Linked DNA regions of Homo sapiens: region 2 is linked to region 1. Evidence: fine-mapped expression QTL. A gene starts in region 1. The other region holds a variant in brackets. All regions are shown on one strand. Distances are from middle to middle. Region 1 holds the start of WDR55 (WD repeat domain 55). Region 2 overlaps HARS2 (histidyl-tRNA synthetase 2, mitochondrial).

The links. PIP is the estimated chance that this variant, and not a neighbour inherited with it, causes the effect.
Region 2: its variant is the best candidate, but not a certain one, in a credible set for the expression of WDR55 in whole blood (INTERVAL, PIP 0.53).

Annotation. Positions count from the first base shown.
Region 1 is chr5:140,662,511-140,666,901 of GRCh38, reverse strand. WDR55 (WD repeat domain 55) reads right to left here and starts at 1,998. Exons shown (of 7, transcript NM_017706.5): 1 at 1,799-1,998. The coding sequence starts at 1,989. LOC124901088 (a long non-coding RNA gene) reads left to right here and starts at 1,465. Exons shown (of 2, transcript XR_007058968.1): 1 at 1,465-1,537; 2 at 1,745-4,391. RefSeq lists enhancers at 1,864-1,993, 2,344-2,503, 1,921-2,587.
Region 2 is chr5:140,694,773-140,699,163 of GRCh38, reverse strand. HARS2 (histidyl-tRNA synthetase 2, mitochondrial) reads right to left here. Exons shown (of 13, transcript NM_012208.4): 5 at 3,531-3,656; 6 at 3,319-3,426; 7 at 2,963-3,061; 8 at 2,550-2,643; 9 at 2,094-2,221; 10 at 1,758-2,000; 11 at 1,479-1,595; 12 at 1,086-1,232; 13 at 1-671. The coding sequence ends at 612. Among named protein-coding and RNA genes, the nearest start is that of ZMAT2, 3.5 kb to the left of the region's middle. The variant G/AG (reference allele first, on the strand shown) is at 2,336.

The DNA.
Region 1 (4,391 bases):
AAATCAAACATGTGTTGAGCATCTACCCTAGACTAGAGGTTGGAGATAAAATAGAGAACAAAACCGATGACAGATTACACTCCAGAACAGTGTTTTTTCACATTCTAGTCATATAACGGACTAGTAAGCTACGATCAGCATTTTGTGTACATGTACACAATAATAGAATAAAATCAGCAATTGTATCACAGAGCATCATATATAATGTAAAAGGTATTTCTCTGTGAGGCAAGGTCAAAGACGTTTGAAAAACATTAGTGAAGGAGACAGCATTCAAATAATTACACAAATGGACATATGGTTACCAACCATTCATTATTAAGGGAAAGGTACCATGGCACCTGGTGCCATGGCAGCATCTAACAGGTAACCAATTTTAGTCTGGGGAGAGAGGAAGAGGGAAGAGATCCTGGAAACTCAGAGATAGTAGGTAAAAGTGAGGGGAAAGGAGTTTTCCGGACAGAATAGCACATGCAAATGGGCTGAGGTTTCGAGATTTTTTTTTGAGATGGAGTTTTGCTCTTGTTGCCCAGGCTGGAGTGCAATGGCACGATCTCGGCTCACTGCCACCTCCACCTCCCAGGTTCAAGCGATTCTCCTGCCTCAGCCTCCCGAGAAGCTGGGATTACAGGTGCCCGCCACCACACCCAGCTAATTTTTCTATTTTTAGTAGAGACAGGATTTCACCATGTTGGCCAGGCTGGTCTCCAACTCCTGACCTCAGGTGATACCCCACCTTGGTCTCCCAAAGTGCTGGGATTACAGGCATGAGCCACCACGCCCGGCCCAAGACGTATTTTTAAAAGGTATGGATGAATGAGCACAGATGGTCAGGGCGTTGAAGGCAGGATTGAGAAATTTGTACTAAATCCTAAAAGCAGACCATTGAAGGGTTTTAATCAAGGGAGTGTCTCACTCTATTGTCCAAGCTGGAGTGCAGTGGCACGATCTTGGCTCACTGCAACCTCCACCGCCCGAATCCAAGTGATTCTTCTGCCTCAGCCTCCCGTGTAGCTGGGATTACAGGCCCGCGCCACCACACCGGGCTAATTTTTGTATTTTTAGTAGAGACGGGGTTTCACCATGTTGAACAGGCTGGTCTCGAGCTCCAACCTCAGGTGACCCGCCCACCTCGGCCTCCCAAAGTGCGGGTATTACAGGCGTGAGCCAAGATTTGTGGTTTGAAAAATCACTTAAAGGGGCCTGCTGAGCCTGTCTCGGGCACAATATAATAATCCGGTAGGAGTCCGGGCACGGTGGTTTACGCCTGTAATCCCAGCACTCTGGGAGGAAGGCAGGTGGATCACGAGGTCAGGAGTTCAAGACCAGCCTGGCCAAGATGGTGAAACCCCGTCTCTACTACAAATACAAAAAAAATTAGCCGGGCGTGGTGGCGGGCGCTTATAATCCCAGCTACTCGGGAGGCTGAGGAAGAGAACTGCTTGAACCCGGAAGGGGGAGGTTGCAGTGAGCCCAGATCGCGCCACTGCACTCCAGCCTCGGCGACAGAGCGAGACTCCGTCTCAAAAATAAATAGGTAAGTAAATAAATAATAATCGGTGGGAAATAACAAGGCCTTAAAGGGCTTTTTGGCCTACTACGGTATCTGGGCTCTGTCACGACATTCCAGTTCTTTCAACAGATTGGTGTGATAGAAGAGCCGAATGTTACTGAATAAATTGGACCCAAAGAATCTTGCAAAATTTGTCTCCCTGCAACTTTCTCTCATCTCTCCTGTTCCCAGGTCCACCCCCGGGAAGCTTCCAGACCCGGCGCCCCGGCCCTGCCCCGCTCTCACACGAACACGTCCCCGTCCACGTCCCCTGCAGCCAGTAGGTCACGGGCCGGATGGAACGCCAGCCCACTAGCCGGAGCTTCCAGCACGATGTCTTCCGGAGTGTCCCGGATCCGGGTTGGGGCTTCCATGGAGTCTGGGTCCTCCTCGTCGCTCCCATCCTCAGCGGGCCTCTCCTCACAAGTGCGGTCCATGCTGAGAAGGACTGCGAGCCGCGCCGCCGCAGGGTAGTCAGCCTCGGAACCACCCACACTGCGGGAGGAGTAGCCTGGCACTCCGCTTCCGCCTCGGGGGGCGGGGCCGGAAGTGTCTCCGGGACGTTCTTCCTCTTACAGGAGAGGTGGGTGGGCCGCTGCTGGTGCGGGTGGAGCGGAGCGAAGAGACCGCATCTGGGAGATCGGCTACTTCCTTGTCCTGCTGTGACCCCGTTTGGGCTAGGTAGACGGTGCGACCGTCAATTCCCTCCCTAGTCACGTCACGTAAAGTTGAGAACTGCGTGTAAATCTTTCCTCTCCTACTTCATCCAGACAGGCTTAATGCCCTTGGGATAGGAGAGAGGGACGCTAGTCCTTCGTGGCTTGGTGAAACCCAAGATCAAGTCAAGCGACAGCCTGGGCTGTCAGGAAGCCGCAAAATCCCACGCTGCGCGATGACATACGGGAGTCTGGGACAGCAGGCAGCTCAAGCAGCTGGTGTCCACGCCCCTAACGTCTTTGTGGCCAGTTTGCTGTGCCAGTTCCTACAATTTGTCTACAGAAACTCAATGGGCTGGACAAGCAGTGCTCAGTTACCAAGAATTTTTTTTTCTTTTTTGTTTTGCTTTGTTTTGAGACAGGGTCTTGCGCTGTCGCGCAGGCTGGAGTGCAGTGGCACGATCACCGCTCGGCTCAAGCGATCCTCCGAGTAGCTGGAACTACAGGCACGCGGCACCACGCCTGGCTAATTTTTATTTATTTATTGAGACGGAGTCTCGCCCTGGCTGGAGTGCAATGGTGCGATCTCGGCTCACTGCAACCTCCGTCTCCCGGGTTCAAGAGATTTTCCTGCCTCAGCCTACCGAGTAGATGGGACTAGAGGCGCATGCCACCACGCCCAGCTAATTTTTTGTATCTTTAGTAGAAACAGGGTTTCACCATGTTGGCCAGGCTGGTCTCAAACTCCTGACCTCGTGATCCGCCCGCCTTGGCCTCCCAAAGTGCTGGGACTACAGGCGTGAGCCACCGCACCTGGCCAATTTTTGTATATTTTGTAGAAACGAGGACTCAGTATGTTGCCCAGGCTGGCCTTGAACTCTTGACGTGTCTTCCCACCTCAGCCTCCCAAAGTGCTAGGATTATAGGCGTGAGCCACGGCGCCCAGCCCCTGAATTTCTTTTTTTAAATCAAGGTCTTGCTCTGTCACCCAGGCTCAGAATGCAGTGGTGTGATCATAGCTCACTACAGCCTTGAACTCTTCGGTTCGATCCTCCTGCATAGCTATAGACTCATGAACTCCTGGCCTCAAGAGACTCTCCTGCTTTGGCCTCCCAAAGCACTGAGACTGTGGGCATGAGCCATCGAGCCTGGCCTCAGAAACTGAATTTCAAACCCACAATCTCCAGGTCTTGCTTTTAGTGACTCTCCAGATGTCTTCACCTGTGCCATGTCTCTGTGACCATTTTTAATAATTGGGACTGCCTACCTACATCCATAGAACCATGGTGTCATTTGTCTGAAATTAGCCATTCTAGGTGCTATTGCAGCAAGGCCCAATTTCAGCCTCTTACATGCCATGCACAATACTGGCTTCCTCACAAAAACCTGTCCTACCAAGGTGAATATAATCAAAGACAAGGTAATGGCTAAGGTGACTTTCTAGCTTTCTTGGATCTGGTGAGGCCACAAATCTTGGGCTCAGGGTAGACAGTGGCAGCGTGGCATCCAGCCAGGAAGCAGTAGTGACACCTAATGATGAGCACCAGGCCAAAGTGCTGGTAATGAGCAGAAGGGAAGAAAAGGGAAGGGAATGGTGTGATTCAAAGGTCAACAGACCTATTCTGGGCCTTGGCAAATGTTTCAGGGTGATGAAGGGCACCAAACCCTTCTGGTCTAGGATAGGAATTCCTGTACCTGCAGGGCCACACTATATCAGCTCTAAACCCAAAGCACTTCCCTAAGGTTACACCTTTAGCCAAGGAGACAGTGATTTGTACTCAACATTAATAAAGCTCATAGTACATAAACTCATAAAAGGTTTTGGTTCCCACCCATAAGTGATTTTCATTAGATGCCTTCATCCAGAGCCCAGTCCTTCATAGCCTGGAGATCAGATTAGCAGCCCATCAGGCTGACAGCAATCCCCAGGAAATCTTTCCCCAGGGACTAGGCCTGAAGATGGGCCGGAATGAGTCTGACATTTGAGACCAATCATACTTACATTCCTCTATCCACCTCTTGCCCATCAGTGAGGATCATTATTCTCTTCTCTACTGGGCACACTGGCTAGAGAGCATCCTTACTGTCTAGGAATCTAGAACCACAGCTCAGGAAAGGACTGATGACTTTCTGCATGTGATTTTACACAACCAGTGGAATTAGTGTTCTTGGTGCTTCAAGGG
Region 2 (4,391 bases), 32 kb before region 1:
CTATTAAGTTCAATGTTCAAGATTATCAAGCATACAGCCCCACTCTTCTACTGTAAGCAATGGATGGGCTAGAGAGATGTCAAATCAACATGGGTACTGCCATGCCCTTAGGATAGCATCTGTCCTCAAAGCTGAAAGCAGCCATTGCCCCTCTTTGCTGTCTTCCAAAAACTCCCCAGACAGGCCAATGGCTGATTGTGGACAAATTCACCAGAATCTGGTTCCGTAGCTACAGTAGAAGGCTAAGTATCTGGTTTCTGATCTCAATGGTTCAGAATCCTGAGCCTGAGGTGACTCTCCCAGAGCCTTGCTCACAGCAACAATCTCACTACCTCTTGACAACGTTCCGTGGCACTTCAAATTTGCCTCTGCAGCTAGAGCATGTCTCTTTCACATCCAGCCATCTGCACCCATGCAGAATAGCTGCTCACACTAGCCCAGGAGTCCTCAGGGTCTTCTACAGTTCTGCACCCAGGAAGAATGGAGGAGGCAGAAGGTACTTGTCACCCTTCCTGGCTAGTTGTTGTGAAGTCCATCACTCAATTCCAGAGGAATTCAGTTCTAGAGGAAACCTTTTCTACAAAGAGCAGCAGATGGGAATCAGGCAAGGATCAAGACTCAGACAGTCGCTTCTGAATTTCAGCCACAAAATTTTCCCGTTTAATGGCCACCTGAAACATAAGAGAATCCTCATGTGATAAACTAGAAAGTGATACTAACTCCTTAGCCACTGTTTTTCCAGATTTGTTTTACTCTGCATCTTCTCCCATTACTTATACAACCAGAAAGGAGTAGTGTGGGTTGACCTGAAGAATGTATACCCTCAAGATGAAAGGGATTCAAACACCTGATCTATGTCTATTATGTTGATTAGTCTCAAAATACCCATTCGGATTTCATTTGTCTTTCTTCTGGCCACCCAGTCAATACTCACAGGCAGCAATGGTCATCTTGAGTGAGTGTTTGTTCATCTCTACCACTATTAACCATGAAGATAATTTCTCAGCCAGAAGATGCATATTTCTTACAGAATCTGGGAAAGGCAGAAATACTTCGTCCCTTCTATTTCTGCTGCCGCCACTCACCTCCTCTCTGCTGGCCACTGAACGGATCTTGATGACCCCTTCTTTCAGTTCTTGCTCACCAATAATGACCACCAGTGGAATGCCTGTGCTCTCACAATAGTGCAGCTGGGTTAATAGTTTGGGGTTGTTCTTGTATAGCATCTCTGCCTGAAAAGGATCAAGACAGAGTAAGGGACTTAGAAGTGAACACAGCAACAAACCTCAGGAACATGGATATCCAAGAAAGCCAGAGATAAGTGGCTAGTCCGCCTACCCTAAAAAGCCAATCTAGTAGCCAGTAGTAGCTAGCAGACTAAAAAGGTTTTGAGTTCCACCCCAGACATAAGATAGATATAGCCCTGGGTCCTAAATTCCACACATACCCAGATGGCTCAGATATCAGCTCCACCATACCTTGATTCCAGAATCCCAAAGCTCTGCAATAAGCTTCAACCGTTCTTGGAGAAAGTTCTTCTGTGGTGTGGCCACAAACACTTGAGTCTCTGTAGTCCGCACCTTCTCACCTTTGGTCTAATAAGAGAGAAGAAAGTAAAACTAATAAAAACCTCCTTTCCACCAGCAATTCCAAAAATCAAGACAAAAAGAATCATCAGAAAACCACTCCAACTACACCTCCAGAAACAGGAGGGTTTTTAGGTCTCCAGCCCCACCTCACACCTATCTAGGACCTACCTTCATCCTCTGCTCCACAATGTAGAAGATTCGCTCAACCCCAATGCTGAGTCCCACACATGGCACCTTGTGGCCCTTGGGGTCAAACATGCCCACCAGCCCATCATAGCGCCCACCAGCAGCCACACTGCCCACATTCAGGGGCTCCTCCCCAGCCTGAGTTGGGGTCTGCAGCAGCACTGCTTCATAGATCACTCCTGTATAGTAGTCTAGGCCCCGAGCCAGGCTGAGGTCAAAGGAGATCTGTGGGGACAAGATTACAGTCAGTCCCAAACTAGACTCGGGACCCTGAGAGCCCTAGAGCTCAGCAGGAGGTCCATTTGCAATTCAGCTTACCTTATCAGCAATTCCAAATAAAGTCAGGTATTCAAATAGCAGCTTTAGGTCTCCCAGGCCCTCCAGGGCCTGCTTGTTCTGGGATAGTCTGGGATCCTGAAACATTTGCTCTACTAGGGATACCCCACCTGGAGAGAAATAAAGTCTCTGCTGTTCACTCACATGTGTTTCATTCAAAATTATCCCTAATGTGCTCTAGCTAGTCTTCCTCATTTTCTTTAAAAAAAAAAAAAAAAAAAAAA[G/AG]ATCCCAGTCTCACATGACAAGACCCTCCTCCTTTGCCTCTAGCTTTGCCATCTGAAGACACAAAGTCGTTACAATAAGTAAAAGAGAAATTAAATTCAGGACAGGCCCTGGAGCTTAGCATATCTACAGAAAAGAGTTGTTTCAGAGGTAGAATTTGAGCACATGTCACCTTCAGCCTGGTTCTATCACAGCTCTGAAAACCCTGGTTCTTACCATGACACTGGACATAGTCCCCAATTCGATCAGCCACCTCAGGAGCCAGGCCTTTCTTCACCACCATCTCATGTCTCACATCTTTCCAAGCCATCTGCATAAACACCCAAACATTAGCCCAGCCCCAAGATCTTTCTTTCTCAAACTGAAAAAGGACAACTCAACTTCCATTCAGTATATACATCACAAGTAGCTAACTGTATACTCAGCAAAGTCAGAGACAGCTTAAGAAATCCAGTCACAATCCCCACTGTATAGCATGACTCAGATCTTCCTTCAGAGTATGCCTCCTTACCTTCCACCCCAAAATAGCCCACTTCCAGCCACAATCTCCTTATTTTTCACTAGTGGTATGGATTTGAGGGCAGGGCAGAAGCTAGATAGGGTCTACTGAAGTATGTCTTCTTTGTTACCTTGTCTAGTTTATCTATGGAGGAGCAGATGGCACGGAACTTGCTTTCAGGAACACCACAGACAGCAAACATCCCATCCACAATCCGCCGGTCATTTACCTGAGAACTCAATGTCAGTGACCCAAGTGCTTGTCAATGCCCTTCCACTCAAAACAATGGCAGTACCTACTTTCCTGACACACAAAAAGGATGGAAATTTCACAGGAAGAGTACAGACATATAGGAAATACAACAGCTTTACTAGGAAAGTCCTACAGTTGCAGGCTTAAGGGTTGGAGTCACCCAAGTTTGGGACTTGCATAAACAGTATTAGGCCAAATCCAGACTTCTCCCACAGTTCTCAGCCCTGGCCTCACCTTAATGAGAAAGTCTCCCAACTGCAATCCACTTAGGATTTCACACATGATCTTCAAACACTCTGCATCGGGGATCATAGGGTCAAACTGACCAGCAATGTCAAAATCCTACAGCAAAGAAAAAGATGGGAAAAAACATCCATTATCCAGCCAGTTTCAAGGTTGTGGCCCCTAGAACTATCAAACTGTGCTGCTCCCATCAGGTCACTTACACACTGGCAGAACTCCCTATAACGGCCTTGGACTATGGTTGGGCTCTCTCGCCGCCACACCTTTCCAACATGATAACGTTTCATCTTCTTCACCTTATTCATGGCCAGATAACGAGCAAAGGGAACCTCACATAAATGGGTTAAGGAAGAGGGATACTGCATCCAAAGATTAGGCCCAGTATACAGACATTAGGGAGGACTGGGCCTGGATCTCATCCACTAGGGTAAGAACAAGGACCTTCCCTTTTTTCCACTATCCCCAAGGCCTAGCAGTGCTTGGAATTCAATATATATTGAATAGTGTCAAATGAAGGAATCTCACCTAGCAAAACTAAAAGTTCAGCAGAAAGCAAGGCAAGTAGAGATAGAAGTGACCCAAGAACTAACTTCAGGTCTTTCTGCCCATTCAGATCGATTCCGAACCATCTCAAAATAGTCAAGCTTCAGAACTTGGATTTGCCTAACAACTTCTAAGCTACTGGTTCTGAAAGTGCAGGGAAAGGACTACATGCATCTTAATTACCCACGATGCTTGTTTAAAATGCAGACTGTAGGCCAGATGCAGTGGCTCACACCCGTAACCCCAGCACTTTAGGAGGCCAAGATGGGAGGATCACTTGAAACGATGAGTTTACAACCAGCCTGGGCAACAAAGACACCCATCTCCACAAAAAAAATTTTTTTTTTGAGACAGAGTTTTGCTCTTGTCACCCAGGCTGGAGTGCAATGGCGCAATCTCGGCTCACTGCAACCTCTGCCTCCTGGGTTCAAGTGATTCTCCTGCCTCAGCCTCCCTAGTAGCTGGGATTACAGGCACCTGCCACCACAGCCAGCTAACTTTTTACGTCAAAAGAGATCTGT